Homo sapiens: one gene and its partners. The protein of the gene in region 1 interacts with the protein of each later gene in a pairwise test. Each region holds a gene or a part of one and is shown in the gene's direction. Other genes may lie near its edges. The genes, in order: MALSU1, MYBPHL and SP6.

Region 1 (7,010 bases):
TTTGTTGAGTGCTTTATTGTGAAAGGGTATTGAATTTTGTTAAATGCTTTTTCTGCGTCAGTTCAGATTATCATATAGATTTTTTCTTCATTCTGTTAATGTGGTGTTATTGCATTGATCCGTTTTTATATGTTGAACCACCTTGCATTCCAGGGATAAATCCCACTTGGTCATGGTCTATAATCCTTTTAATATGGTGCTGAGTTTGGTTTGCTAGTATTTTTGTTGAGGATTTTTGCATCAAATGTTCATCAGGGTTATTGGTCTTATGGAATGAGTTAGGAAGTGTTCCCTGTTCTTCAATTTTTTGGGGAGAATTTGAGTATTGCATTCTTGTTTAAATATTTGGTAAAACTCATCAGGGAAGCCATCTGGTCTAGGACTTTTGTTGGGAGATTTTTGATTACTGATCCAGTCCCCATACTAGTTATGGTCTATTGAAACTTTATATTTCTGCATGATTCAGTCAGTAGATTGTGTTTCTAGAAATTTTGCTATTTCGTCTAGGTTACCCAGTTGTTTGGTGTACAGTTGCTCATAATACTCTTACAATCCCATTTCTCTAAAATCAGTAGTGTCACTTCTTTCATTTCAGATTTTAGTTGTCTTTTTTCTTAGTCATTCTAAGAACCAAATCCTAGTTTCATTGATTTTGTCTTTTTCCTGCCCTAATTATCATTTCCTTTGATTTTGGGGTGATGTATATGAGATGTCCTTTGTCTCTTGTAACAGTTTTTACTTAATTGCCATCTTGTTTGATATTAGTATATCTGTTTTAACAAAAGAACTGAGCACATTTATAGGATGACGGGGTCCCATTAACATGTCATAAAGGCAGATGAGATGAAATCAGTGGCACTGAAACAACCTGGCTTTATAAACAGAAGGTAGTATCTGCAGCCCCTAAAGGTGAAGGAAAGCTGGGATGAACACAAGTGATGGATGTAGGTGGGTACCAAATGCTGACTGAGCTTAGCTTTTTCAGCCTCAGAGGCACCTTGGTGAATGAATGGGGTGACCCTCTCAGAAGGGCTGGGGCAGGAGAATTCAGGAGAGAGGTGAAAGTGAATAAGATTTAGAGGGAGAAATAGTTTCCCTAAGTTATTCATCACAGGGCAAAGTATAGCAATGAGAAATGAGTAAGAAAGATTAAAAAAAACAAACAAACAAACAAAAAAAAAAGACCTTCAGCAAGAACAGGCTTCCCCCATCCCCTCTCCCTTTAATAAACCACCTGGCTTTTTGCAGTACAAACACCTGAAATGTAAACGTGACCCTCATGTTAAGATAGAAGGGAAGGACACTGATGACTGGCTGTGCGTGGATTTTGGTAAGTTATTCTGGCGTATTTTACAGGTAACTGTTGGTACTACGCTAATCTTGAATTGTTTTCAGTTGCAAAAGGATTGAGATCAAATTGATGAATGTATTTCCAGGTAAGATTTTTGAAGTGTGTTTAAGGTAACAAAAGTTTTTTTAGTTATAATCCAGGTGGTCTTATTCACATGTAGAATTTTCACCTAACCAAACCAAAGTACCCTAGATGATGCCCTCCTGGAGGAAGATATATACTACATGGTGTGTATCTACTAGCCACACAGATCAGGAAGGTGGTGGACAACAGGATAACATAGTAGAGGCGGGAGAGATTCCTTAGTAGTGGTAGAGGAAGGTTTGGGGGCTGTGGTGCATAAATGAGATGAGGATGAGGTTATTCCAGGCACAAAAAAGGACAAGAGCAGAAGACTAGAATTTTGAAAAGATCTAACAACTTTGGGTATTAATGTGTACATAGTTTCAAAGCACCTCCCAACAAGATAATATTTACAAAGGGGAAACATAACTGTATGTCAAGAACTGAGGAGTCTGAGATTTTATTCTGCTTGTAAGCTAATACATTGTCCCGCCAGTTTTCATGGACACTGGTAAAAGACAAGACTATTAGAGGGTTAGAGACAAAGAACAGTTTATTACTCACAGCAGTAGCCAGCATCCATTTTGCACTGGTTTCCTGAGCTCTGGATTCCATAGGGCAACATGGGCCAGATGACACCAGCACACACAGTTGTAAAACTGGAACTCAGATGAGGGTGTCTAGGTTTTTTATAACTGGCAGGAAGCAGGCCTACTTTTGCTCTGATGGTTTCTCACTTTTGTCGCTATTAACGTTTTGGACCAGGTAATTTTGCATGTGGGGGAGGGGTGTCTCTTGTGCACGGTACGATGTTTAGCAGTATCCTCCCTTCTCCAATTGTGACAATCAAAAATGACTCTAAACATTACCATTATTACCTAATTGAGAAATGCTGCTGTAAGCAAAGCTGCCCTTTGCCCTGGAGGGAGGCAGTATCTTTCTGTTAAGAATATTCACGATACAAACATTCTTGGATAGTCAAAACAAAAGGCAGTCAGTGTTTTTGCACAAAAGATGTGCAGAAGTGTGTTACCCATGGAGAATTGTCACCGAAGAGAATCCTGACACCATTAGTCTCTTTGATAAAGTTACTATCACCAGCAATGTTATATATTGACATATGCCTCCTGTAGGTACACTGAGAAAGGCATAGCATCACTTCTGTGGTATTTTTGCTGGGATGGAGTCCACAGTGATGCTAATCTGGGAACCACACTTGAGAACCACTGCTTTATTCCTAGAGTTAGCCAGTGTGTGTTGTAAGGTAAGAATAAAAGCAAATGAACTATTCCTTCATTGTATCTCTTATCTGTCCCTGACAGGCAGCATGGTGATTCATTTGATGCTTCCAGAAACCAGAGAAATCTATGAATTAGAGAAATTATGGACCCTACGTTCTTATGATGACCAGTTAGCTCAGATAGCACCTGAGACAGTACCTGAAGACTTCATTCTTGGAATAGAAGATGATACTTCATCTGTGACTCCAGTGGAGTTAAAATGTGAATAAAATATTTTATGCACTGCGTTAGTCATTTCAGATTTGGATTGAGTCACTTATTGGAAAATACAGCTCCTAAAGTCCGTCTCCTTGGTTAGGCTGCTCTTAGGACAAGGCTTGTGTACCTCATGGGCACTCCTGCTAACTGGCATGCAGAGACTGTCGATAAGTGAGCTATACCTGCAACCAAAAATCAGTACATTCTACCCAAAACTTATGACACGCTGCCTTTATCCTGGAAATGTCATCAGAATTTCCTGGAGTTAGCACTGGCTCCTGTGCTTGACTTCTCTGCTCAGATTTTTATTAATTTAATTTAGCTTAAATGTAAATCTTAACCCTGTTTGTTTAATGGAATGGCAAAAATTTTAAAAAATAATATAAAACATAGCCCACTGGTCTTATTTTTATACTTTGAGGTGATAATATTCTTCTAGGAGGACTTCTGTAACCCTTCCAGAATACTCCAGTAACACAAGAAAGTAAACAAAGTGTTTGTTAGGAAAAACTCTGAACGCTCTAGTTCTTAGTTCATATGCAAGAGTATTATCAAGGTTCACATTAAGTACCATGGCTGGACATGGTATAACAGAAATCTGCGTAGAGTTTGAAAAAAAATTCAGAACATTCCCATTCAATTGAAAACCAAAAATAAAACATACTACACAACAAGCTGCACCTAAATGATGAAAAAATTTATTCTGCGTCAAGGTATCTGGAAAATGAAGCTGCATTTGGGGCACATTATACATGAGGAATGATCCATATATGGTGAGTACAAAACTCAATTATAGAATTATTTCTTAGCTAGTACCAGATACTCCAAATTACAAATGCTTAAGTAAAAGTAAAATATGATTTGCCATACTAAAAGGCTAGAAGTGAAATATGACAGAATTTAAACCAGCAGATATAAATGCAGCACCTATGTGTATATTTTTAAAAAATCAAATATTGGGGAAAAAAATCAAATACTGAGAAAAGCTCTGGCCTTAAACACATCTTACCTGAAATCCAACCAGAAAGCCAGTCCATGATTTTAGCAATTTTAATTCATTGTATGAAAAAAAAATCATGAATGCTAGGAGAATCCAGTGACAAAAAGGGCACTTTTTTGGTTAAAACTACAAAAGAAACTTGTTTTCAGAGAACATTAAGGAAAACACTTTAAATCATTTTCAAAATGTCTAATTGATCTTCAGAAAAACATCTAGTCTGTATAGAAATTCATCTTGAAATAAGAATGAGGCAGTGATTTTTTTTTTAAAGGGTTATATATATGTCCTTTAGATCAGTGTAACATGACTGTGATCATCTTACAAACAAAACTCAAAAAATCAATTCAGAGAGCAGCGTGGCCTTGGAGACCACCCACACCCAACACAATTGTACGTACTGGGCTTTGCTGTCAAGGAGTGAGCAAATGAGTTCGTTATCAAAGGTCATATGTTTTCACAGTCATTCAAATTATATCCCAAAAACTTTTCTTGTATTCTCTATCTTTTGACTTTTTTTTCAAAGAACTGATTGCACAGTATACAGAAATCCTGTTATACTTTACTACTTAAGGTGGAGTCTAATTTTTTTTTTTTAATTTATCAGTGCTTAAAAATCTTCAAAATAGCTTAGTGAGGCTCATGACAGTGCTGGCCCCATGGAAATGTAGCCTTTTGTTGCGTTTAAACACTGTCACACCATCTATGACTGTCCCATTGGTCTGAAGTGTAGTGGCAAACTAAGCATCCTATAAGACAAGCTAAAGCTTGCTTTTTGCCAGTCAGTTGAAAGTCTTGCATCTCTTCACTGATGCACTTTCTTTAGGTATTGATAGTCAGAAGCACAAAGCATTTATTATGCATTCAATCATGTAGCTAAACAAAAAACTGAAGTCTCCTGAAGCCATTTAAACCAGCCGTTCCAAAATCTCCTGCGACCACTTTGTTAGTACCGTCAAAAACTTTCCCAACTATAAATGAAAGAATAAATGGTAGTGCTGCTCTCCAGATACTAGGCACTGCTCCGTATTTTTGAACATTTGATTTAACTAATAACTGTGTCAAAAGCCTCAAAAAACCCTGAAATTAATTTTCCAGCTTTACTGTCACCAGCCAGAAGTAAAAATCTTAATTTGCCTGTTAGCTGATTGCTGTTAAATTTTAAATTTATTTTTTAAAAAACGGTTGGACTTCTATCATTATAAAGTATATAAAATTTTCAAAAAAAAGGAACAATTTTGCTTTTCATTGTATTACTGAATACCTGAGGTAGTTGAGTAAAAATGCACGTTTAATACCCCTGCCAACACCATTCAGCACTTCCCTTAGGTTACTCATGTTAGTGTTAGGTAAAAATAAAACTGAGAACAGTTTTTCTATGCTAATGGCTTAACATTTAAGTTCCTGTGATAATTATTCTGATCCAATTTTAACAATTGGATTTAGGAGCAATCTATTTGATGAATTTAGTGAAAGCATCATTAAGCCAATTTCTGGCATTATGGGGGAATATTAAGAAGAATTAGAATATCTGTTATACTGTGAGACTACAACAAAGGGAAGTGCAGAGCTCTTCTCTTTCCCTCCCTCCCCCACCCTTTTTTTGTTTGTTTGTTTGTTTGTTTTAAAGCTGGGTGTCATACATTTCAGAGAGCATAAAGTATACATTCTCACAGAGACAGGAGTTCAAAAGTTGCCTGGTCCTCAGAAACAACTGGCTAGGTAAAAACTTGTGCATGTGATTCTGGATAGGGGGTCAGCGCCCATCTGTTGGTTAAGCAATCTGTCTTTGGTTTGGCATCTGCCTCTGTGGTGGGCTGTTTCCTGAGCCTTTACTTCCGTCTTGACTGAGGTGGTCCACTTTGCAGAGCCTTCTGTTGTTGGTGCTGCTTTACCTGAGTCAGAATTTCCTGAATTTTTCTCTGGGCAACCTAGAAAAGGACAGAGCTTTGAAATTCCACTTGATCAAAAGCTACTAAAAGTTATTGTACTCCTTCATTTCAACAATTTCAAATAGAAATCCATTTGATGATTAAAGATACATACTAGTCAGTTTGCTAGTAGTCTCTGAAATCACCCGCTAAAAGGGAGATGAAAAGTCTTAAGCATCAAACAACCTTAACTAATTCTATCAGGTAGGAGCACCTGTGGGAGAATTGCTTCCACGTGAGAAAGATACAATAGCTTATTTTAGAGCCCACTTGCCTGGCAAGCATAGAAGTGACCAGTTATTTTGACAACCACTTGGTCATTCTCATCAGGTGTCTGGTCACGAGGGACAACAACTTCTGCACTTGACAAATTCTGAAGTTCATTCACCTGAAAGAGATAAATATAAATCACATTAAGTGGCAGTTTTAAAACCTTACTTCCTAAGCACTTACTGTGCGCCAGACAGTGAGCTATGTATGGCTTTACAAATTTCATTTAATCCAGTGGTAATTCCATGAGGTTATTAGAATTATCCCCACTTCAAGATGATTAAGGCTCATCCAAAGAAACTGATTTGTCCAGTTATACAAGTGAATGGCAAAACCAGATTCAAATCCTGAGTCTGATTCCAAAGTGTATGTACTCAATCACTTCAAAATTATAAATAGCTTTGAAACCCACTTACAAGTTATATGTATTAGAGACTAGAAACAGTTTGCTTTTTTTCCATTACAGATGTAACAAGCTGTAGATGAAATTTTTAAAATTCCTGTTAAGTGTCTGTTCCATAAAAAGCTAAAGTTTTATCAGGAGAACGTTAAATGCCCTTTATAAATATAGGACAATCCTCTCACACAAAGTGATCTGAAAGAGATGCATTACTTTCACTAATAGCTGGCACCAACACTCAGACAGGAAACAAAAGGCAATCTTCTCCAAACCTTGGTCAAGATGGTCCTGCTTTTTATAAATTAGCCAAAATTCGGGGACTTGGAACTCCTAAGTACCTTTCAACGCTTTCCCTTTCATACCACTGCACAGGTTTTGCTGAAGTACTTGCCGTTTTGCCTCCTTTTCCAATAACTCTGCCAGCAGCAAAGGATGGCACTCTGATATGAGCTTCAAGTTTCACCTCTTCTTTAGGACTAACAAAGTTTTCTTCTTTAAT
Region 2 (11,119 bases), on another chromosome or scaffold:
AACACGTATAGAAAGATGGTTTGCTAAGTCTGGAAATCATGTAGGACCTGTAGTATGTGACTAGCACCTGCTGTGAGCTGGCCACTTTCCTATAGATTGTATCATTTTATCCTCAACACAATCATGGCATCATCCCTTGTTTCATAGACTGGGACTTGAGACTCCGAGTCGGCCATTTGCCCAGAGTCCCAGCTGGTGAGTGAGTGGTACAGCCAGAAGTCACACGCAGGTCTCTGAGCTCGCCTCCCTCCACCACTGCTGCCTCTCCCTTTATTTGTACTTCATCTAATAGGCAAGGCAGCCATTGACAGCTCTCAAAGGGGGAAGTGCTGGCCTGACCTAAAAATAGCTTACATTTATCAAGCACTTAGTCGGCTACACTCTGCTAAGCACTTTACAGAGATTACCTCTTTAATCCTCACAACGACCCTATGGTTATAATTATCTCCATTTTACAGATGAGGAAACAGACTGAAGAGAGACTGTGAGGTGTTGTGAGTCACACAGCTAGTTGGTGACAGAGCCCCAAGTGGCACCTGGGCAGCCAGTGCGAGTGCAGTCTCCACCTACCACTGCGCTGTGCCCGCTGCCCCCGGGGAGCGGGGGAGGATGGGACAGGCCCTGTAAAGGTCGAGTTGATAAGACTTTACAATTCATTGAATGTGGGAGCAGAGGGAGAAAGAGCAGTTCAGGCGTTGCTGTGAGTCAGCTAATCCTGGGCCCCTTCTTTGGGACCTGAATGCCCCACGGGATGAACTGGAGGTCAGGAGCAGAGATGTCACTCAACCCTCCCTACAGAAATTAGAGGTCCCTTTTGGATGGTGTGTTCAAGCTCTCCCTCCCTGGTGCTGTGGGGGGTGTCATCTCTCTCCCGAGATAACAGGGACACCTCAGTCCTCCTGGGGCTATTCTGGGCTGCTGTCTGATCCTCCTCTCTCCCCCAACCCCTACTTCAGCCTTTCTGCTGGGCGTAGCTGAGTGGGGAGGGCCAGCCCAGTTACGTAACCCTGTGGCTGGGACCCGGGAGGCCAGCCTGGGAGCAGGTGCTCAGCCCCTCCCTCATCACCAGCAGTGAAAATCTAGAGCTGGAGCTCAGCCTCTGGGAAGGCCCAGCATGGAGGCAGCCACAGCTCCGGAGGTGGCCGCAGGATCCAAGCTGAAGGTGAAAGAAGCCAGCCCAGCGGATGCTGAACCACCCCAGGCTTCACCTGGACAGGGGGCTGGCAGCCCCACTCCCCAGCTCCTGCCCCCTATAGAAGGTGACCCATGGCAGGTGGGGAGGGTGGGGAGGCCGGGTGGTGGGAGTTGGGGAAGACATCGCCACCTTCCTGAACGGCGCCTCAGGTTTTCTGCAGAGCTAAAGACTCTATAGGATTGGTGATTAGGCTGGAGATCATTCGTGAGAGCCCCCATCCCCTGTCCTTGATGGAGTCTAACTTGCTGCTCAAATGTCCCTGCTAAGTTTTTGTGTTTTAGCTGAGAAGTCAGTGATGGTGTTGGTGGCACTTTACAGTGACTAAAAATGATCTGTTTATATTTTTACCTTTTAAAAAATTGTCATAGGGACTGGGAAGACCTGATATACTAATGGCCAGTCAGGAAGGGACTGAGGGGTAAGAGATAGTGACTGTCTGCTGAAGGAACAGGGAAATAAAATGCTATGGCAATGGGGAGGCTAAGAGTGGGGCAGCACAGTGACACTCGGCCTCCTGCTGGGCAGTACCACGGGGTCAGGACCTCCTCCAATCCCCCACTGCTCCCATAGGAGATCCTGACCCCTCAGAGTCTGAGCTCCACGGAAGTGGAGCTCTCCTGGGAGAAGCATTCAATTTCCCCTTCACGATGGTCTCTGTGTGCCTCTCAGCAAAGAGGCGTTCCCAAGTGAGGAATTCCAACCCCGAGCTTCCTGCCGCCCATCCCTGAATGCCCTGGCTGAGGCCTCTGTAGCTAACCACTTCGTGGCGCTCACCTGAAAGTCTTAAGAGGATGAAAAGACCACAATCAAGAAACACGTGGACTCCTAGGGCAGGAAGAGGCAGGGGAAAAGATATACTAGACTTGGAGGCAAAGCTCTAGGCTCAATTCCTAGTGCCGCCTCTAACAGCCCTGTGACCTTGGACAAGTCACTGGACTGCTCAGTTTCCATTTTCACTCTGTAAAATGGTGATTAATAACATCTACCTATCAGGGTAGTTGAAAGGATTGCTGAGATGATCCAGGGTGCCTTGGAAGAGGCCAAACTAAGATGTAAATAAATGATCAAATATTTCCAAGTGAGAGGTGAAGGCTGCGTTCTACCTCCATAGGGTTGTGCAGCAGACTCTGTCTGCCTCTTATCCTCATGGGAGAGGCCAGGTTTCCAGAAACTATTTGAATGTCAAGGGCAGAGAGCTGGCCAAGTTTGTCCCGTTGAAGATGAAGGGAGCAAAAGTTAGTGTAAATATATTAAGCTGGGGTGATGGAGGCAGAAAACCAGTTTCTTCCCTTAAAAGGCCCAGAGAATAAGTGACAGGCAGCAGGAGAATGAGAGCCAGGACTGCTGACGCCTCAGCTCTCTCTACTGGTCTTCCCAAAAGCACAAGGGAGAGTGCTCATCTCCCCCATGCTTCTCCCCTCTGGCTGCAGCCAGCTCCTGACAGCCCCCAGTCACGGGCCCGCAAATGCAGCCCAAAGCCTCTCGTGTGCAGCAGCTCTGTACACTGCAGGCCTCAGGGCCACTAGCACCCAGTGGCTCAACCCAGTGGTATCCCAGAAGTCACTGGCAATAAGAACACCTTTGAATACTTTGCAAAATATATGTGCATCTGTTAACTACTTGGAACAAAGAAGTCATGAGTTCAAATCTTAGCTCTGTTCTGTGGCCCTAGGCAAGTCAATCCACTCCCATTTTCTCATCTGTAAATTGAGGAGTTGAACCAAATCAGGGTCTTAACCTTTTGGTGGATATGGACCCCTAGGAAAATCTAATGCCAGCTGTGGACTCTTGCCCCTGGAAAAATACACAAAAAAGTTCAGAGAGCCAACAGAGCCCCAAACCCCCACCAAAGATCCTTCAGGGTGCAATGCATGGGCCTGGACTAGATGACCCCTAAGCCCCCTGAGAGCTCCAAAGCCTTTCTTCCTCCTAACTCCTCTTCCTTACAGAGAGCTCTGGGACTGAGTATCACAGGAAGCATGTGAAAACATGGGAACTAGAGCAGGCATCAGAAATAGAAATTAATTTGCAAGATCAAAACCAACTGCAAATGGCCAACAATGAGCTTTTAGTTTGGCAAGCCTGCTACATGGCTAAATAAGCAGGAGTAGGTGGCCAGCATTGGTAAACAGTTCTATGTCTGTCCTCAGCACTACACTGAGTACTGTGTCCTGGAGACAAAGCTTGGCAGGGGCCAGAGAAGAGCTTCCAAAACAGGGAGAGGCTGGGGAACAAGCTGCATCCCTCCCATGGACAATGTGACACTCGGCCTCCTGCTGGGCAGTACCACGGGGTCAGGACCTCCTCCAATCCCCCACTGCTCCCATAGGAGATCCTGACCCCTCAGAGTCTGAGCTCCACGGAAGTGGAGCTCTCCTGGAAGAAGCATTCAATTTCCCCTTCACGATGGTCTCTGTGTGCCTCTCAGCAAAGAGGCGTTCCCTGGGACCCTGAGGTGGAGGAGAAAGAGCCCATCTGCTGACTTCAGCATCATCGCTCCAACTGACTCTGTGTTCTCTTTCAATCTGAACTGTTCTGTGTCTTCCAGGCATGGGAAACTGAATCTCATGCCTAGGAGTGACCTTTCTTCCCTCCTTCCTTCCGTCCTTCCTTTCCTCCTCCTTCCTTCCACAAATATTTAGGTTGTGCCTATGATGTGCCAGGCGCTCTTCTAGGTGCCAGAATTACAGAAATGAACAAAATAGGTAAAAATAACTGCCCTCATGGAAGTTAGATTCTAGTGGAGGGAGCTAGACAATAAATAAACAAGTAAAGTATCTAATATGTCAGATGGTGAGAAATGCTGTGCCAAAACTAATGCAGGGACGGGGATAGAACGTGCTTCGGGTAGGAAGCATGCAGGCTTCCTGCTTCAAATGGAATATTCAGTGAGGGTCTCACTAATAAGGTGACATTTGAGCAGCAACTTAAAGGATGTGAGAAAGCAATGCATGCAGATATTTGGGGGAATATTTTCCACACAGAGAGAACAACTGCAAGGACCCTGAGGCAGGAGTGTGCTTTATGGGTTGGGGCCATTGTGGCTGTAGCACAGGGAGGGAGACAGTGGCAGTATTTCAGTCTGAGAGGTAGCACGGCCGCTGTGAAGACTTTGGTTTGTCTACGAGACAGCCAGCCAGCCAGTGCAGGGACTGGGAGTAAGGACTGACAGGACCAAGTGTAGATTTTAAGGATTTTTCCAGCTGGCCATGTTAAGAATAGACTGTAGGTGGGCCTTAGACACTAGCAAGATCGACAACTGGGAATGAGAATGAGGGAGAAGGTAGGGAGGTTTTAGAAGAGAAAGGTGTGCGATAGTCACCCAGGACAATGGGAGACCGAGTGAACTTGGGAAGTCTAGTAGAATTGCCAGAGTTCACTTGGAGGTGGTGGTCACTATTAATGGCCCTCAAGTTAAACTCCATATAATTTTGTATTTTCCCCCAGTCCTGTTACTCTGTGCAGATACAGCCACTGAGTGGGTGGGAAGTTTATTTAACAAGGGTTAGGTATTGCCAAGAGAGTGCAATGAAGTCAAAGAGGACTCAGGGATTTGAGTGAGTGCAAGAGAGAGAGTATAATAATGACCGTGCAATCTAAGTTGGGTGGTGAAGAAAGTGCTAACATGAAAGGGGTGCTAGGTAGTGAGAGGGTGGTAGGACAATGGATCACAGATCTCAGTGGTGCCAAAGAATTGCTGGTGTTGGAGCACTGGAGGAAGTGAGCTAAAGGGATAAAGATTATATTAGTTAGGTATACTAGTGAATGAAACAGGTCTCAGGAATGACATACATCTATTTCTCACTAGCGTAAGAACTAAAAACTATTCTGCAGATAGTTCTCCTCCATGTGGTAATCCAAGGACCCAGGCCTCTTTCATCTTGGGGCTCTGCCATTCCTTAGGGCCCGTGATCATCTGTGTACAGCTAGCAGAAGAGGAAAATAGAAATCTAACTTCTTCAAAGCCTGGGACCAGATGTGATTCTCACCATTGCCACTTACGTCTCATTGGCAAAAACTGGTCGCGTAGCCATCCAGCAAAAGGTGGCCGGGCAGCCACTTCTCAGAGATAGCTACGCTACGGAAGGGGTAACATACATTTTTTTTGGCCAGTTAGCCATCTCTGTTATAGAGGTGGTGATGAGACAGTGGGATGCTTGTAATTCTGATCATAGAAGGATTGTAGCTCTTGGTCTAGAGAATGGCCACAGGGACCATTGGCTGAATTAGGAGAGGACAAAGTTATTGGAGGAGTGGTGGGCCAGATGTGAGAGACCCTACGGGGACTGGAAACATGGGTGTTGGGACCAGCAGGAGTTATGCCTGGAGAGGCATACCGCATGGAGAGGGTGTTGGAGAGACAGTGAGCCAGGGCTAAAACCATCAAGCACTAGGGGGACGACTGTAACATAGGGACGGGGTGGGGTGGAGTCTTTTCCTCAGAGAAGTGTTGCCTGTTCCTATGTCCTTTTATTTTTTCTGACCTTAGTTTCATGGCCTTCAAGAAAGTGACACTCTTGTACCACTCCTTTCCCATTGCACTCCTCCAGACAGGTTTCTGAGTAGACCAAGGCCACATCCTAGGCATCTGGTAATGTTTCTCTAAGAAATCCCGGTACTTCTTGGATTTCTGGAAACCTCTGGATAGTTTCAAAGCCATAGCTAGCCTCCTGCATTCGCCCTCTTTTGGTAACCCTTCACCCACATAGGCACGTGTGTATGCAGGCTCCCTCTCTCTCTCACACACACACTCTCATACACACACATACACACACCATTCACAGACACACGTAAACACACCCATACACACATTCATGCACGTACACAAACACACACATTCACACACATACACTCACACACACATACATACACACTCATACAAACACACACACACCCTCTCCACTTCTCCAATGCTTCCATCTTGGTTCTTGGCTCTCCAGGTCATAGTTAGTAACATCGGTCTGAACTATACAGCCCCTAGGGAGCCTCTGGAGAAAGACTGATCCCATAAAAGGGAATTATGAGAGGATAGGAACAATTATAGAATAGTAAAACAGGCATAAACTTTAGCAGGATAAAAGTAGGGTAGGTATTAGGAGGAATTTTCTAATCAGAAGTCAAGATCTTTGGACTTGAAGTAGTTTTCTCTCTTTTTTTTTTTTTCTTTTTGAGATGAAGTTTTGTTCTTATTGCCCAGGCTGGAGCGCAATGGTGCAATCTCGGCTCACTGCAACCTCTGCCTCCCAGGTTCAAGCGATTTTCCTGCCTCAGCCTCCCAAGTAGCTGGGATTACAGGTGCCCGCCACCACACCTGGCTAATTTTTGTATGTTTAGTAGAGATGGGGTTTCACCATGTTGACCAGGCTGGTCTTGAACTTCTGACCTCAGGTGATCCACCCTCCTTAGCCTCCCAAAGTGCTGGGATTACAGGCATGAGCCACTGCGCCCGGCCTGAAGTAGTTTTCTCTAAGAATTTTTTAGAAAGAATTAAACAGCATCCTGTCTGAGAGAAACATTGTACAGAGAGAGCCTAACTCAGAACCAAAGGCCCTCAAAGGACTTTTCAAGATGCCTTTTCTCTAAGACCCCATGAAGGGAGAAAACCAAACTGTGACTCTCACAGACCTGCTCTTAGAAAACCTAGGCTCTTAAAGACTCTAGGCTTTGGTTCACATCCCTCCTGTCATCTAAGGAGGAGAAAGACCTTGGGCATCAGGGGAAGCCATGCCTCCCCAAGGTCAGTACAATTTACACCTCGCTTGACTGCGGATGTGTGAAAAGAGATGCCTCAAATGAGCCCCGGCGTTCACATTCTTAGCAAAGAGTCAGATTGCGCCTGGGTTGGGTTGAGAGGCGATTGGAGAGCATGCTGCTGACCTGCTGACTGGGCATCTGAAGCTGCCACACTCTCTCCTGCCACCTCTGCACGTAGTCAGCTGAGTTAGCCTCACGTCCATACTCTGCCCTCCCACAGGGAGCCGGGAGCCTGCTGGGAGCAGAGGCCTCACCTACACATCCTCAGAGTCCATTCTAGAGACTTAAGTTTCGTCATCTTGTCAGGAAACCCACTGATAAGCAGAGAACCGGCAATGGAGCCGTCCAGGGAGGGAGAGACTGCCGTCCTCGCGGGCAGCCTCCTTCCTTGCTCTCGCGGGCAGCCTCCTTCCTTGCTCTCTGCCCAGCCAGGATCCCCTCTAGATCCAAGGGCCAGTCTGCTCCTCTTCCTCTAACTCCCACACCTTAGCTTATGTTCCACATAAACCCATTTCTTTCATTTTTCTCTTTAGTTCAGGTGTAAGAATGCTAACATTTTCCCAGGTGTTTTTCTAAGAAACAAAAGAAACACTAGGTGGAAACACATACATCAGCTCACAGCTACCCATAACAGCCCATTCCCTACCTGAGGTCTCAGCAGGGCGGGGCTCAGCGGGCACTTCTGTCAGGCATGAAGGCCTGGGTTCCTCTCCCCACCTCAACCCTTTGCAGTTCTTGGGTATGTCTAGCCCCCGCCTTCCCTCTGGGCCTCCTCCCTCCAGGGGCAGGCCACTGTCCAAGCCCTGACTATGGTGCTCATTGCTGGGTGGACACTGGTGGGCAAGACACAGCTAGTGCTCTGAGAATGGGTCCTTCAGACACACAATCTTAGATGGGGAGGCAGGAGTCTCTGGTGCCAGGCACGTCGTCACAGCTAGCCGGGAGGTCTCCAGAATACCGGCTTCTTTCTCGGAGCCCTCTTGCTCCCAGCATCCTTGTTCTGGTGCTTACAGGCCCTTCCTAATGCCGACATTCTGTAGGCAGGCGGCACAGGGACAGCAGAGCCAGCTTCTCTCCAGCCCTCTCCCCAGCAAATGTAGAAAGGGTTATTTCCTCCCCCAACAGTGGGGAACCAAGCCTGACAAGATGAGGTTTTGACCCTCCTTTCCAAGTACGGCCCTCTTTTTCAAAACACTATTAAGTCATATCCGCCCGTCTTCAACTCTTTGGTTGCTTGCCAAGATGGCCACAGGAGAGAAGCCCATCACACAAACGCTTCTTCTGTTCTTCATGTCCCGCCCCTCCCAAGCCACCAGAGCCCAGCCGAGGGCAGCCACAGCAGGGTCACTCAGCCGCCTGCAGCTGCTGCATCTATGCTGAGGCAGTCAAGACCTGAGCAGGGCAGGGAGGACGGGCACTCAGGCCCATCAAGTCCCCTCGTCACATATTCCTGAGGTGCAGTCTAAGACAGGCACAGCCCAGGTGAAAACATAAGCCACACAGCACAGAAGGAAACTGCAGAAACCAAACGGACCGTGTGCACTGTACATTGCCATTGATCTTCATTTGCAAAGGTCTCGCGACCTTGAGATTATCATGGGGAGACTCAGAGTGAAGTTCTCTGGACAATGCTTGCTGATTGAGCTGGAGGAAGGACACAGAAGAAGCTCTGTTTCAGTTGCGTCACTTACATGTTTGTGTTATGTAATGTATGTATTTAAACAGTTCATCTATAAGTAAACATACATATGTCATAGTGAATGCTCAGGGAAGTATTTTCACAGAAGTGTGTGCTATCAAAGAGTCTGGAATCCACTATCGAGCAGTCATGCTGTTTGCCACAGGAATGTACCAGGGGTGAAGTTCTTCCAACTGCCAAGAATGAACTGTGGCAAGAATCCTGGGTTGTTGGGAACTGAAGCACTATCACATTCTACTGAAGATAATATCAGCCAGGCGACTGCCTGTGCCTGAGAAAGGAGGAGACAGCAGCCAGGAAAAGGCCAGAAAATGGTGTCTGTCTCAGCCAGGCCCCCGAGGGAACGCAGGTGGAATGTTTGTGCTTCGGCAGCTGAGACAGTGTGAGGCATCCCAAGAGGAGAGAAATGATACCTGGTCAATCTCCAAACCTACACTCAGCACTTTTCCAAGCATTTCCTGTCTTCATCCTGGAAGCCCATACACATCATCTAATCTCTACTTCTCACTGGGACAGACCTGTGAGATCAAAGGGAAATGAGTGGTGGACCTAATCTGTCCCAGAATCTGTACAAAATGATCCTCTGCAAACTGGAAGAAGACTGTGCAGGCGCCCGGGAGCAGAGTGGCCATGCAGAGGAAGGGACCCAGACACGTGCTCTGTCTGCAGTGACATCAGTGTTGTCTCCGTGGGCGGCTGGGAGGTCAGGGTGTTGACTCTGCCTGCAGAATGGAGAGCATTCTCCTGAGACCCACACCTAACTGGGAGGTCAGGATTGACATGGAAAGTGGCCTTGATAAAAGGAATGGTATTAAGGACAAATGTAGAAAAGGGTGGAAAGACAAACCACACAGACCAGGCTGGTCTGTACACAAACAGAAAAATAAAAATGCCTCCATCAGGATGGAATGCCTCCAGATGATGGAAAGTCAGTACTTGAGAGTTACAAATTAAGAGAACTGTCAGACTCGCACTCCAGTGTTCCTTCTGCTGAGACTTTAATGTTTCCCGGGGTGTTCCTTAAGCCAACCCCTCATCCCCAAATCCCAGCAGGATGATGGGAGCACTCTTCCCCTCCCCTCTAAGAAGGGCTTAATTTGGTGACCGATTCCTGGGCCACTCACCCACAGCAGGCAGCTGGATGCAGGATTTACTTTCTCTGAGTATCCATCTCCTATTCTCTCTCTTTCCATCACTCAGAGCACCCCAAGATCTGGCTACCTCGGGCCCTGAGGCAGACCTACATCCGGAAGGTTGGGGACACAGTGAACCTACTAATCCCATTCCAGGTGATCATGCCAGCCCCATACTGGGTCCATGTCTGGGGCCAGTGCAGGTTTTGGATTTGGAAACAGATACCAAGAGTCCTGCTAGCAGAGGGGCAATCTTCCCAGCCTTGGATAGAAGGGGTCACACCACCAGAAGTCTGAGGCCAAATGACCTCTGCACTCCTGAAGGTGGGTTTGGATAGGACTGGGTGTGCACCCATGAGATGGTGTGAGGCTAATCCATGCCCTTCAGTCTACAGAAGCCTCAGAGCTTGCAGTTAGAAGGGTTCTTGGGAGTTTGAGTGGCTATTCAATTGGTCCCAGCTGCCCCGGGTGTTCATGACCTAAGCTCTCAGAGATTGGGAGACTCAAAGCCATCCCTCTTTCCCAAGATCCTTAGGCTGTTGCTGAAAGGAGGAGGCCCCCGGGAGGGTCCACCAACTTCTAACTCAAGGAATGTGCAGCTCCAAGTCAAGCCTCCCTGTGGACCTGGGGTGGACAGGACCCCTACAGCAGCAGGGAGAGTCAGGAAGCCTCTCGGGGCTGCTCAAAGCATTACCCTCATTCCTCAGGGCAAGCCCAAACCTCAAGCCATCTGGACACATGATGGCTGTGCCTTGGACACCAGGCGTGTGAGTGTGCGGAATGGGGAGCAAGACTCCATCCTCTTCATCCGAGAAGCCCAACGTGCTGACTCAGGTCGCTACCAACTCCGCGTGCAGCTGGGTGGGCTGGAGGCCACCGCCACCATTGACATCCTGGTGATTGGTACGGTGGGGGAAGTGGGAGATGGGGGGGTCCTCAGGAACTCCCTCTCCAGGCTGAAGAGGAGCCAGCTCAGAGAGCTGGGGAAGCTGCGGCAAGGCTCCCACGTCATGTCTGGGACACAGGGTGGGCGCAGGAGGGGTAACTGAGGAGAAAAAGGGGCTAGGGCACTCCTGAAGTGACTTCAATGCATGTGGGATGTTCCACGCCCACTGCCATGGCTTTGCCCTTTCAGAGAGGCCAGGCCCTCCTCAGAGTATTAAGCTGGTGGACGTTTGGGGCTTCAGCGCTACACTGGAATGGACACCGCCCCAAGATACGGGGAATACAGCACTTCTGGGATACACGGTGCAGAAGGCTGACACAAAATCCGGGGTGAGGCCAGCTGGGAAGGAAGGAGGGTGGAAGAGGGCATGTTGGGACAGGCCTCTGGTAGCT
Region 3 (11,762 bases), on another chromosome or scaffold:
ATGCTCACCTTATAATTTATGCAAATCAACTCTGTAATTAACTATAATTTGGAGGCATCCTTTGGTATTTGAGACATTTATCCATGAGGAAATGCCCTAGTGATAATGCTCCCGTATTAACATTATTTACTCCACCTGTGTGGTCTCCTCAGCTTGTTTCCCCTCCCCACTCTGATTTTCTGTGCTGGAAGGTGGGGAGGGACAGGGAAGCCCCTCCCTGGAGCCTGCCTCAGTCCTGATGCCTGGGTTCCCCCAGGGGGTTGTGCTGGCCCTGTCCTCCCAATTTTGCCTAAGATTGAAGAAAGAGGTCCAGCTCTGCCTCCTAAGCCCTCTAATACTCTATTCTCTCCTGCTTGATGGGTGGCTTTCTGCTGAGCTTTTACCTCTTCAGGGCCTCAGTGTTCTCATCTCTGAAATGGGGAGAGGAAGGACCTGTCAGGGCCTTTATGGGATAATTGCTGAAAAGTTAATGAAGAGACTGGGAATCCCCAGTCTAGAGGTTGCTGAGGGTATAGGGGAGGAGCAGGAGAAGAGTTTTGGGTAAAGACTCCCTGGCTCATCCTGGGAGGGAGGTAGCATGTAAGTCTTGGGGTACTGGGTTCTGGTGTGTGTAGAGGGGGTACAACTGCTCCTGTCCTCTGCCAAGGGCATTGGGCTGTGGTCAAAAACAGGATGTCATCCCGTGAAAAGTCCCCAGGCCACTCTCCTATGTGGGTCAGAGTTCACAGCTTCAGTGAGCTTTGGGAAACAAGTCTTACTCTTCTGTTTCATCTCCGTTCTCCTTCCTGGTCTTTTGTCCATCTCTGCCCTGGGACATGTTTGTGTTAGCCAGTATACCTAAACTTACAACCACCCTAAAATTAGGCTCATATAAATAGAGATCTGGGGGCTCCCCCTAAATTCACCTTCAGGCCCCTTCTCCCTTTTCCAGGCCACCTTCCTACCCTCTTCACCCTCCTGGAGTTCCAGGAGTCCTGAACTGTCTGTAGCAGTTCTTGGCTGGACTCTGCCTCTGGTCTTTCTGGTCTTAGGTGACCTCTTGTCCATCCTAAGCTTCCCCACTCCATCCAAAGTCAGGGAAAAGGTCCTCCCTTCCCATTTGACAATGAGAGATCCCAGGTCCAAAAGATAGATTACACTGGGTCCTCTTGGGGGATCCAAGTTGGGAAGTGAGTATGTAAAAAGAGGATGAAAAGGGAGCGAGAGAAATTGTGGCTCAGAGAGGCCAACAACACTGACATGAAGCTCTGCAAGGAGGAACTGACTTGAAGACGTGTGGTGTGTGTGTGTTTGTTGGGGGCATGAGCCCTTCAGGTCTCAAAAATGGAACTTCTTTCTCTCTTACCAAGTCCATGGAGGAAAACTCAGGAAGAGGGGATGGAATTTGGAGAGTTCCAGCTATCCCAGCTCTCCACCCTAGCAATGCTGTCATTTCCTCCATCCTGCAAGAACCACTTTGTCCCTCTCCCACTGCCCAGCCAACTCTGCGGAAGGAAGGAAGTGCCCCCAGCCCCCACTCCCAGCTGAAATCCTCCTTTCCTGGCAGACCTCACGGACTCAGATCTCACCTCCTACCACTCCCCTAGGAGAGCTGGGGGCCACTGTTTCCTGGATTATCCTAAAAGCTTCTGAGGCCGTGAGGACTTGGCAGCATCCCTGCTCCCTCCTTCACCTCCCCCTTTGGCACTGCCTGTCACCTCCTTTATAAAGCCTGGCTCTTTTATCACCGCCACTTGGCCCTCACTGCCGCCGCCAGCTCTGGGCTCCATGGACTGGTAAGAGAGGCTGTTCCCTGTCCAGTACAGGGGACCTCCACAAAGAGGATCAGGTCTCCACTCTAAAGTGGGGGTCATAGAGAAGGGTCTGGTTCTCTCTGAATTGGGAAGGGGGAGATAAGAGGGAGATCTTGGTGGGGTTTGCATGGAGAACTAAAGGGATCCCTTGGAGGTCTTTTGACTGGGCTGGGGTAGTCAGCCCAGTGGAGAAGTGGGGTAGGGATTCATAGCTGGGAACTTTATTTCGAGAGAAAGGAAGGGCAAATAAATGTTAATAGAAATACAGGGCACACACACTCACTGCCCTGAATGACAGAACACCTGCAAGGATAGTAAGGGAGAAACCACTATCCACATCCTATGGGGAACTGCATTTACGGTGGAGGAGAGAAGACACCCTACACTCAAGCCCACAGGTACACACAGGCATAATATGTACACACATTTGTAGATATACACACACCGACATACAGATGCACTATCCTCAGGTGGGTTCATCTTCTAGACTGAAAAGCGATGGTGGTAGCTAGGGATTTTGAAATTTATAATAAAATTAGTGTCCAGCATTGTGCTTGGCCTTAAGTAGACCCTCGATAAGTGTTTGTTGAATGAAATAAAGGATGAATGAAAGAAAACTATTTGACCCCAGCTTTAGGCTCTATCTGGTTTTCTAAGAATCAGGAGAGTATGGTGGGGAGAGGAGGGGAAATAAGGAATATGTTGGCATCCAGGGTCATCAGCTTGCAGGCTTGGAAGTGCAGCCCGAAGGTGGGAGTGGGAAATGGAGGAGAGGAGTGAGTGAGAAGAGGAAAACAGGACCAGACTCTGGTCTGGTCCCAGCTCTGCTTCTAACTTGCTACTAACGTCCCTGTTTTGGGGTTTGGTTTCCCTACCAGTAAAACGAGGGCTTGGACGAGACAATTTGGGGCTAGACCAGCTTTGATATTCTCATAGTGCAATCTCTACAGGACAGTTGAAGTTTGGAAGGGATCACAAGTGTAGAGTCTGACTTGTCTCAGCAATTCAAGATGGGATCAGTTTGTCCATTAGACTCAAGATAGGAGATGGCTTTGATCTAGGGATTCATTTAAGAATGCTGTTTCCTCCACCTTCAGGCTCTAGGGGAGCCAGACTTCCAGGGTCATCAATTCTGCCATATTGAGGCCAGATGGACTAGTAGGCAGAATACAGGCTTTGGAACCTGAGAGATCTGAACTCAGTTTCTTCTTCTGTCTTTTAACAACTCTGTAATCTTGGGTAGATCATTTAACTTCTTTGATCTTTGGCTTCCTCATCTGTACAACGGGAATAATAATAATTACTTTGCTGCATGCCCATGAGAATTAGAGATATTTGTGTAAAGCATCTGGAACATAGTAGGTGCTCAGTAAATAAATGCCGTTTGTGATAAACACGCAGACTAATGAGATTTCTCCAGGTACAAAGTGGATCACTGACTATAGATGAAGCTTGAGAAGAAGAGGGGTGGCAGGAATGGGGGTTGGACACTTGCAGGGGAAATCTGACTATTTATTTGAGAGAATGAGGAAGAGCAGCAGAAATGGCCCAAGTCCAAGACAGATCTCAGTTTATACAGGAGATGTGATGGGCTGTGTTGTTCAATTTTGAGTAGCAATAAGTATATGGGCAATGGGCTGTGGTGACCTTGCTCATTAAGTTAACATCAGACCATGCGCCGTCATTCGGTGGGAAAACATTTAGCAAGTGGGAAACCAAAAGGGCTGGAAGCAGAGGACTGCAAGTAGAGGGGGACTGGAGGAAAGATAGTGCCAGTACCCTGAGTGAGCAGCAGAAACCTAGGCAGAGCAGGAAATCAGAATGGCTGGGAGTTTCCAGAGACAACTGCATTGTTGTTGAATTTCCTGCTGATGAGCTGCAGGCAGATGGAGGGTCTTTGCTGGTGGAATTCCAGATGGCTACAGGTCTGGTTGGATCGGGGCAGGGCTAAAGGGGGCCTAGAGTGAAAGTAGCAGGGAGTGTCTACCATCCTCGGGCTGAATCCCTGTTGCTTTCCAGGGAAAAGGCAGAAGGGGCCAGGAAGAGAAGGCAATCTGATGCCTATAAATGGGAGGGGAACTTGGTCCCCTACCCAGAGTCAGACCCCTGCACAGGCTTTAGCACCTTAGGAACAGTAGATGCAGCACCAGCAGGCAGCTTGGAGGAGGAGGCAGGAATGCCCAGAGGTCAAATCAGGAACCAGAGTCCCCCACTGGGGGCTCTGTTTTGGACCTGATGAGTGTCTACTCCATTCCAGAGGTAGCTGTGAACTAGGATACAAACCCAACTGGCCAGGATTTGTAGGCTGAATGGATGGAGACAAAGCTGCGTTGATGAAGAGGATTGATTGTCAAATTAGCCATGGCCACAAAGATCCAGAGCAGTTCCTGTGAATCCACATCCAGAGCCCCAAGTAACAAGAAGGCAAAAAGCAAACCCCGACTGATCAGAAATCTCAATCCCCCGATGTCAGGCGGCATCTCCGGCTTCCAAATACCTGTCACTTCTCTAGCTTGGTGGCTGCTTTTACAGCATTTCACCAAGGAAGAAACTGAGGCTTAGAGGCACCTGACCTGCCAGGGTCAGTTTAGCAAGTGCAGGGCTGGGGCTAGAATTTAAATCCGTCAACTTCTAGTCCACAGGTCTTTGTGCATACACCTTAATCCAACCAATATTTACCTGGAACTGACTTATTTAATAATTATAACAAGGATATCTTCCATTTACCCGGCGCTTACCAGGGGCCCCTTGGGCTAAGCATTTTTAGGCATATCAATTCCTTTAAGCCCCCAGGAGACCCTACCAATGTGTACCCAGGTTGTCCGGATGAGGGAAATGAGCCTTAGAAAAGAGGGAGATGCACAGATGAATCCGACGTCGATTCTGGATAAGAACGTGTGCGTGTCTGAGGGGTACCATGCACATACGCATACACACATGGATTGATTTTCACCCCGCTTATGCACTCGGTTTAGCTATTTTTGAGTTACAGTTTGAGTGTGTCCCAAACGGGCATGCAGGACAGGTAAACCAATGGCGGGGGGGAGTAGGGGCTGTAGAGGCGAGATTAAATCAGCCTAAATTCAAGTATGAAATCGACTGTAAAGAGGAAAACGAAATTTTAAAAAGCCGACGGCAAAGCGCACAGAGGAGACGAATCTGAAAAATGAAAGAAATAGGGAAATTAATCTGCATTCCCCTGTGAAAAAAGGGGTCACATGGAGAGATCAACACTGCGGCATGGGAGTGAAGCATGGGGCCACCTCAGCGGCCAGGCAGAAGAATGCGTGGGTGGAGGACGGAACTTCCCTACCCACCGGTGCTTTGCGGGTCTCGGAAATGTCGACCCATCCAGATCTTGAGGGAAGTTTTTGTGAGCTCCGCGAGCGCGCTGAAATTTTACCAGAATATTGCACTGGGCATGTGAATTTTTCTCAAAGGAATCCAAGACCCCTCCCCAAAGTTAAGAACCTTGGGTTTAGTTATTCTGGTGAGAATTAGAAAGGAATGGTGGCAAGGGATAGCTCAATTCCTTCCAGAAGTGTCCCTTCCCAGGGCCATTCAGGCGCCTGCCCATTCTTCAGAACCGGGTGCTCGGGGGCGAGGGTGTGCGTAGGCTGAGCATTTCCCGAAGGACAGGAGGGCGAGGAGAGGCGAATTTGAGAGGTGGATTTCTTAGGCACTGGGGTTGCTACCTAAGGGGAGGGGCAGAGTGACAGCTGCTGGGACCTGGGACCAGAGTAGGGGGGAAGCAGAGACCGGTGGTGGGCAGAGGCTGGGAGAGGGGAGGAGAGGAGGTGGTCACCCAGAAAGGTCAGAGAGGGATACCCCGGAAGGGAGAGGGAAAAAAGGACGGGGAAGGGTGGTGGTGGAGAGAAGCGGCGCGGGGTGCGGGGGGTGAGGCAGGGCAGGGGACGGGGGTCGGGGGTCGGGGGAATGGCGAAGGAGGGCAGCCAAGACAAATTTCACACGGCCTAGGCCTAGAGGCGAACTGGAAACATACTTGGCGCTCAATCTTGTTTCCTTCTTTCCTCCCAGTTCCGGGGCAGGGCTGTCCGTTCAGAGAGGGTCAAGGGCCATCGAGGCAACCTAAGGGTTGCTGCCTAAGGGTGGCTCTGTCTCACCCCCAGGACCTGCCCCCTTATCCATTCCCCCTGGGTCTTAGTCCTGCGTCCTCTGCTAGACCGAGCTAGCTCCAGGGCAGTTTTCCACCCGGCGGGGCGGGTCTTAGAACCTGGGAATCACCCCACCCGGGCCCCTCTCCCTGGGAGTGGAGGGGACCAGGGAGGAGCGAGGGAGCGGGCGGCGCACGCCCTAGTTATCTTTCCTCCCCCACTCCCGCCCACCCCCTCCTCGCGGCCCTGGCTGGGCTCCGGTCCAGCCGAGCCCTCAAGGGTTAAAGGCGGCCGCAGGTGAGGTGGGCGGGGCCGCGAGTCCGGGGGAAAAAGCAGCGCTGGGGAGAGGATGAAGGCAGAGAGCGCGGGTGAGTCACGGGCGGAGCTGGCCTTGTTCGCTCGCTGGCTCCTGCCCGCCCTCCGTCCTCCGCCCTCTCGCCAGCGCTCACCTCCGCCGCCTGCCGCCTGCCGCCAGCCGCCGGGTCTGGCTCGCCCTGGGCTCCTGCCCCTTACCGCTGGAGAGCTCGCCGGCGCACAGGGCCTATGAGCGACCGTCAGTAGCGCACCAGCCAGCCGTGCCCGGAGCCCGCCGCAGCCTCGAGGTAGGAGCGCGGGTCGGGGTGGCCAGGGGTGAGCGCTACGGAGATTGTCTCGAAAAAACGCACTCCGAACGCGCCCCAGCCTCCTATGGCCTTGGGAGCGGGGTGGTCCTAAAGGATCTGAGAGGTTAGAACCCCGATGGAGGGAAAACTGGGCGGACGGGAGAGACTGGAGGGACCGAGGAGGCTGGAAACCGGGGCAACTGGAGCGACTGGGACAACCAGAGGACCGGGACATTGAGAACTGGGAGTACTAGCCGGTGATCCAGAGAGGCAGAGCCGAATGGGGCATAAGGGTGCACCGACTTGCCTTCCCACTTCGGGGAGCGAGAAGCCTGCGATGTACGCTGTGCTCTCTCCTTTCCTGAACTCTTTCTAGGCCTGGAAGTGAACCGGACACATACTTGGCACTCAATCCTGTTCCCTTCTTTCCTCTCAGCTCTGGGGCAGGTGGGTCAAGGACCATAGAGGCAACCTAAGGGTTGCCACCTAAGGGTGGCTCCATATCACCCCCAAGACCTGCCCCCTCCTCTATTCTCCTGGGTCTTAGTCTTGCATCTTCTGCTAGACTGAGCCAGCTCCAGGGCAGTTTTCCACCCAGTGGGACTGGTCTTAGAACCTGAGAATCACCCCGCTTTGGGTTTCTGAAATCTTGGTAGCAGGCCATTGCATCCCAGGCCTGGGCTCTCCAGCTCTCTGCCAGGAGAAGCCACTCTGGAGCCCAGATTATCCTAGCCTTCCCATCCTCCAGCCCCTGGGGCAGTTCCCAGGCACCAAAAGCTGTTAGGGTCCCTGGCTTCACAGCTCCCGCTCAGCCCCTTCTGTGCTGCCCCACCCCGGCCTGGGGCTCCTTTCCTGCAACTTCACCCTGTTTTCCTCTTGTGGTGAGGCAGCCGGAGCCTGAGTAGGTGCCCCCGTCCTCCTCTCCCTCCCTCTCCCAGGCTATCAGTGCCACCTCCCTGGTCCCAGAGGCAGGAGATGGTAGGGTCAGCTAAGCCCTGCTGTAGGAAGGAAACAATCCTGCCCTAAGTCACTGGTCTCCTCCCCCACCAGTAGAGAAGACCCAGGCACACAAACCTGCCCAGCTGAGGCACCAGGGCTTCCAGGCCTTAGGGAGAGGTGGTGAGAAAAGAGTGAACTTCAAGCCACAGATATGTGGTTGAGAAAGCGTTGGGGGTCTTTAGCGTTCTAAGGGTCTACAGAAAGATTGGTTTACAGAAAGTAACAGACTGAGAGTCCAGGAGTTAGGAGACCTGGTTTATTGAATGAATAAATGAACATCCTTGTCCAAGTCACTGTGCCAAGTCATTCAGTCTGCTTCCTTCTCTTCAAAATAAGAAGATTGGCCTGGAGCAGTGGTTCTCAACATTTGCTGCATATAAGAATCTTCTGGTGGTGGTGGGGAGCTTCTGAAAAATGATCCATGCCTAGGATGCACTTGCTTATGTCATCTTTTTGGGCAATTCTTGCTCTTAGGTTCTGTGGTTATGACTTCTCTTGTTGCCCTCCTCTTCCTGCACTCTGACCTTGTATCACTTAAAGGGGTGCAATTGTATCTTCCAGAGCTTGCTGTCAAGCTCTTCTCTGGGGAAGCCATTCCCTCCCAACTTTCTATCTGGGCCTCCCCTAGCATGGAGAGGAAGATGGGTAGCAGTCAGAGAGTTGCCTGGCACTGGTATGAGTCAAGAGAGGGATGGAAATTTGGTTTTCTCTGGTGGGGGTATCTCCCAGATTCCAGGGGTATCTGGTGGCCAGAAAGCTGCTCCCCAGGGAGGTGAAGTCCCTGCTTGAGGGAAGGGGGTGGGGGCATGTGAGTCGGTTTAGTGGGCCCGATGTGACCAGGCCAGGCGGGGAGCAGCGTAGACGGTGAAATGCTTTTCATTACTGAACATGCTTTGGGAATGGCATGAGAACTCTTTCAAAGACTCAGGACCCGTTTGAGGCTTTATGAGGGGCAGGTCACCTGAAGCTTTGGGTTTCAGAAATAGACCATCCCCTCTCCCATCTGTATCCTGAGTTAAACTGGGGAAGCTGAGATGTGTCTAGATCCTCCATTTGGGCTGACAGCAGGTCTGCAGGGGGAAAATGCCACTGCCCCTTGTGTTGGCCTGGGCAGCTGGGGTGGGGATGGTTCTAGCACTGTGCTGTAGGTGTATCTGACCTACCATCCTGGGAGTGGCCCAACTCTAGGGATGAGCTGGGTCATACGGCAGGGATCACCCAGAGGAAGGTAGACCTCCATCATCCTCTGTGCTTGGATGAGAACCTCACATCTTGGACCCTTCCTCGCACTCCCGAATTCTCTAAACTCATCTCTAGTCCTCGTTCAGAGGTGCATCCTTCTTTTACACCTGGGGCCAGAGAGGAGGACCTGGGTTAGGAGGGAAAGTGAGCTGGTTATTTCCCTTACTTTTCTGCTTCTTCGCCTCCTTTAGGTCCCGTCTGAGGTGCCCCTGACCGTCCCTGCCCTCACCCCACCCCGGATCCCGGCAATGCTAACCGCTGTCTGCGGCTCTCTGGGCAGCCAGCACACGGAAGCGCCGCACGCCTCCCCGCCGCGCCTCGACCTGCAGCCTCTCCAAACTTACCAGGGCCACACGAGCCCTGAGGCCGGGGACTACCCCTCCCCGCTGCAGCCTGGAGAGCTGCAGAGCCTCCCGCTGGGCCCGGAGGTGGACTTCTCGCAGGGCTATGAGCTGCCAGGGGCCTCCTCGCGGGTAACCTGCGAGGACCTGGAAAGCGACAGTCCCTTGGCCCCGGGCCCCTTTTCCAAGCTCCTGCAGCCGGACATGTCACACCATTATGAATCGTGGTTCAGGCCGACTCACCCAGGCGCGGAGGATGGCTCGTGGTGGGACCTTCATCCGGGCACCAGCTGGATGGACCTCCCCCACACTCAGGGCGCGCTGACCTCACCTGGCCACCCGGGGGCGCTTCAGGCGGGCTTGGGGGGCTACGTCGGAGACCACCAGCTTTGTGCCCCGCCACCCCACCCGCATGCGCACCACCTCCTTCCAGCTGCCGGAGGGCAGCATCTCCTAGGGCCGCCCGACGGGGCTAAGGCCTTGGAAGTAGCCGCCCCGGAGTCTCAAGGGCTGGATTCCAGCCTGGACGGGGCGGCGCGTCCCAAAGGCTCCCGGCGGTCGGTGCCCCGCAGCTCAGGCCAGACCGTCTGTCGCTGCCCCAACTGTCTGGAGGCGGAGCGACTGGGGGCTCCATGTGGGCCCGATGGGGGCAAGAAGAAGCATTTGCACAACTGCCACATCCCGGGCTGCGGGAAAGCCTACGCCAAGACGTCGCACCTGAAGGCGCACCTGCGCTGGCACAGCGGCGACCGTCCCTTCGTGTGCAACTGGCTCTTCTGCGGCAAGCGCTTCACGCGCTCGGACGAGCTGCAGCGCCACCTCCAGACCCACACCGGCACCAAGAAGTTCCCCTGTGCAGTCTGCAGCCGCGTCTTCATGCGCAGCGACCACCTGGCCAAGCACATGAAAACCCACGAGGGCGCCAAGGAGGAGGCGGCTGGGGCGGCCTCGGGAGAGGGCAAGGCCGGCGGCGCAGTGGAGCCCCCCGGGGGCAAAGGCAAACGCGAGGCCGAGGGCAGCGTGGCTCCCTCCAACTGAGCTCCTCAGTGCCGCCTCCCTGCGGGTATCCCGGGGGGCACTGGATGCGAGCCCCCAGGTCTGACGTCCTTGGGGGTGGCTTGAGGAAGAGGGGAAGGTGCGTATTTATTCAGGGAGGAGGAAAAGTGGTGCAGGGACAGGGAGATGGGGCGCTAGGGGTTCTTAGTCTCTGGGGCTACTAGGCAGGATGAATTTGACTGGGTCGGTAGGAGCTGCGCAATGCCCCTCTGTTCTCCCCTGCCTCACAGTTTCCCTCGCCCCTGGGCTGGGGGGTTGGGGTGGGACACCCGTACCGCGGCTGGCTGGCGGGGACAGGCTAGAGGAGACAGCAAGTCCCAGTCCCCGGAGCAGAGAGAAGTGGGGCCGGCCCGGGGCGCTGGTGGTGGCTGTCTGGACACGTCCTTAGCGCCTGGGAACCAGGACATAAAAGCGCCTCCGGAGCCGCCCTGCGGCGGGGTCCCTTTCATCCCACTTAAAGTGCTTCTGCCCCTAGGGTTTCCGGAGGGAGAGCCGAGATGGGATGGGGGAGCCTGGGGGTCCCCCTTGGCAGGGGTGTCTCTTTCTGGTTTGGAGGGTTGTTGCTGTAAAAATAACTCCTTTGATGAGCTTCCTTATTAACCCTTTCAGACCCAGTCTGTTGGAGCCATGAAGGAAGAGGGAAAGAGGGCTGCCATTCCTGACAGCCTCCCAGCCAGGGCTGGCGATAAAGGACCGAGATAGATGGAGGGGGCGAGTAGGGAAGTCCTCTTCTAAAATGAGAGATAGGGATTTGGTGGGGTATGGAAGGAACTAACCCCTTCCCTCTCCACCTCTGATTCAGCCCTTAATTCTTGGTCTATGATAAATAAAGTTCAGTAGTCTCACATTCCCCATCTATTACCCTAGGTGTGTTTTCAAGGCAGCCAGCGGTAGAATCCATGTAGTTCCCACCAGTTGCCTTCCCCTCAGGGATGGAAGGAAGAGGGTTTCTTGGGCTGGTTGAGGGCAGATTGGGGGTGTCTCATCAGAGGGACCTCCACTGGTTCCCACTCAGAGTGGAGGCCTGCAGCCTACCTGACCATCTCTTTAGCTGTCACCAAGAAAATAAACCCCACTGTCTCTCTAGCTTGGCCCTTGTCTTTCCCTTGCCCCTGCCATAGCATGTTCATTAGGGGATTCCTTCCTCCCCCTCATCTCACAGGGGAAGGGAGAGGAAAGAGTTGTTCTCCCACTGGAAGGGGTTCTGCCTTCTGAGGTGACATCCAGGAAGCTGTCCCCATTCCCTTCTCCTTTAGATGCTAGAAACACATTTTGATTCTGATCATGGGGTGGGGGAGAGAGGAAAGGAGGGAGGGGAGAAGCCCAGCAGAAGCTGAGCCAGGCAGAGGGGAAAGAAGCTGATATGAGGAAGGGTCTGACAGGCCACAGCCCTTGCAGCCGGAGGGCTTTCCCACACTCAAGAGAGGGGCCTTACAGTCCCTCTGACACCCCTCCCCCTTCCCCTCGCTCCCTTTCTTCACCCGGAGCCCTCTGCAGAGATTAGCTGTGTATTGATTTTTAAGTTATAAGCAAAGGGTATTTTATTTAATATTAGGTTATGTGTGTGCATGTTGTGTGTACCTGTGTGCATGTATGTGTGTTTCTCTACTGAGC

The links.
Region 2: the proteins of MALSU1 (region 1) and MYBPHL interact in binary tests that used the Homo sapiens proteins (3 or more experiments, as listed by UniProt).
Region 3: the proteins of MALSU1 (region 1) and SP6 interact in binary tests that used the Homo sapiens proteins (3 or more experiments, as listed by UniProt).

What each region holds. Positions count from the first base shown.
Region 1 is NC_000007.14:23,306,620-23,313,629, forward strand, and holds the end of MALSU1 (mitochondrial assembly of ribosomal large subunit protein 1), read left to right. Parts: intron 1-1,248; coding exon 1,249-1,330; intron 1,331-2,736; coding exon 2,737-2,924; 3' UTR 2,925-5,110; downstream 5,111-7,010. Other genes in the region: IGF2BP3 (insulin-like growth factor 2 mRNA-binding protein 3), read right to left, coding at 5,743-5,841, 6,116-6,229, 6,903-7,010. UniProt on the Homo sapiens protein: Required for normal mitochondrial ribosome function and mitochondrial translation. May play a role in ribosome biogenesis by preventing premature association of the 28S and 39S ribosomal subunits.
Region 2 is NC_000001.11:109,296,987-109,308,105, reverse strand, and holds the start of MYBPHL (myosin-binding protein H-like), read left to right. Parts: upstream 1-1,094; 5' UTR 1,095-1,114; coding exon 1,115-1,259; intron 1,260-9,848; coding exon 9,849-9,937; intron 9,938-10,488; coding exon 10,489-10,684; intron 10,685-10,916; coding exon 10,917-11,056; intron 11,057-11,119. UniProt on the Homo sapiens protein: Myosin-binding protein which plays a role in cardiac function. Seems to regulate conduction in the atria and ventricular conduction systems.
Region 3 is NC_000017.11:47,845,667-47,857,428, reverse strand, and holds the start of SP6 (transcription factor Sp6), read left to right. Parts: upstream 1-6,265; 5' UTR 6,266-6,510; intron 6,511-8,942; 5' UTR 8,943-8,999; coding exon 9,000-10,130; 3' UTR 10,131-11,762. UniProt on the Homo sapiens protein: Promotes cell proliferation. Plays a role in tooth germ growth. Plays a role in the control of enamel mineralization. Binds the AMBN promoter.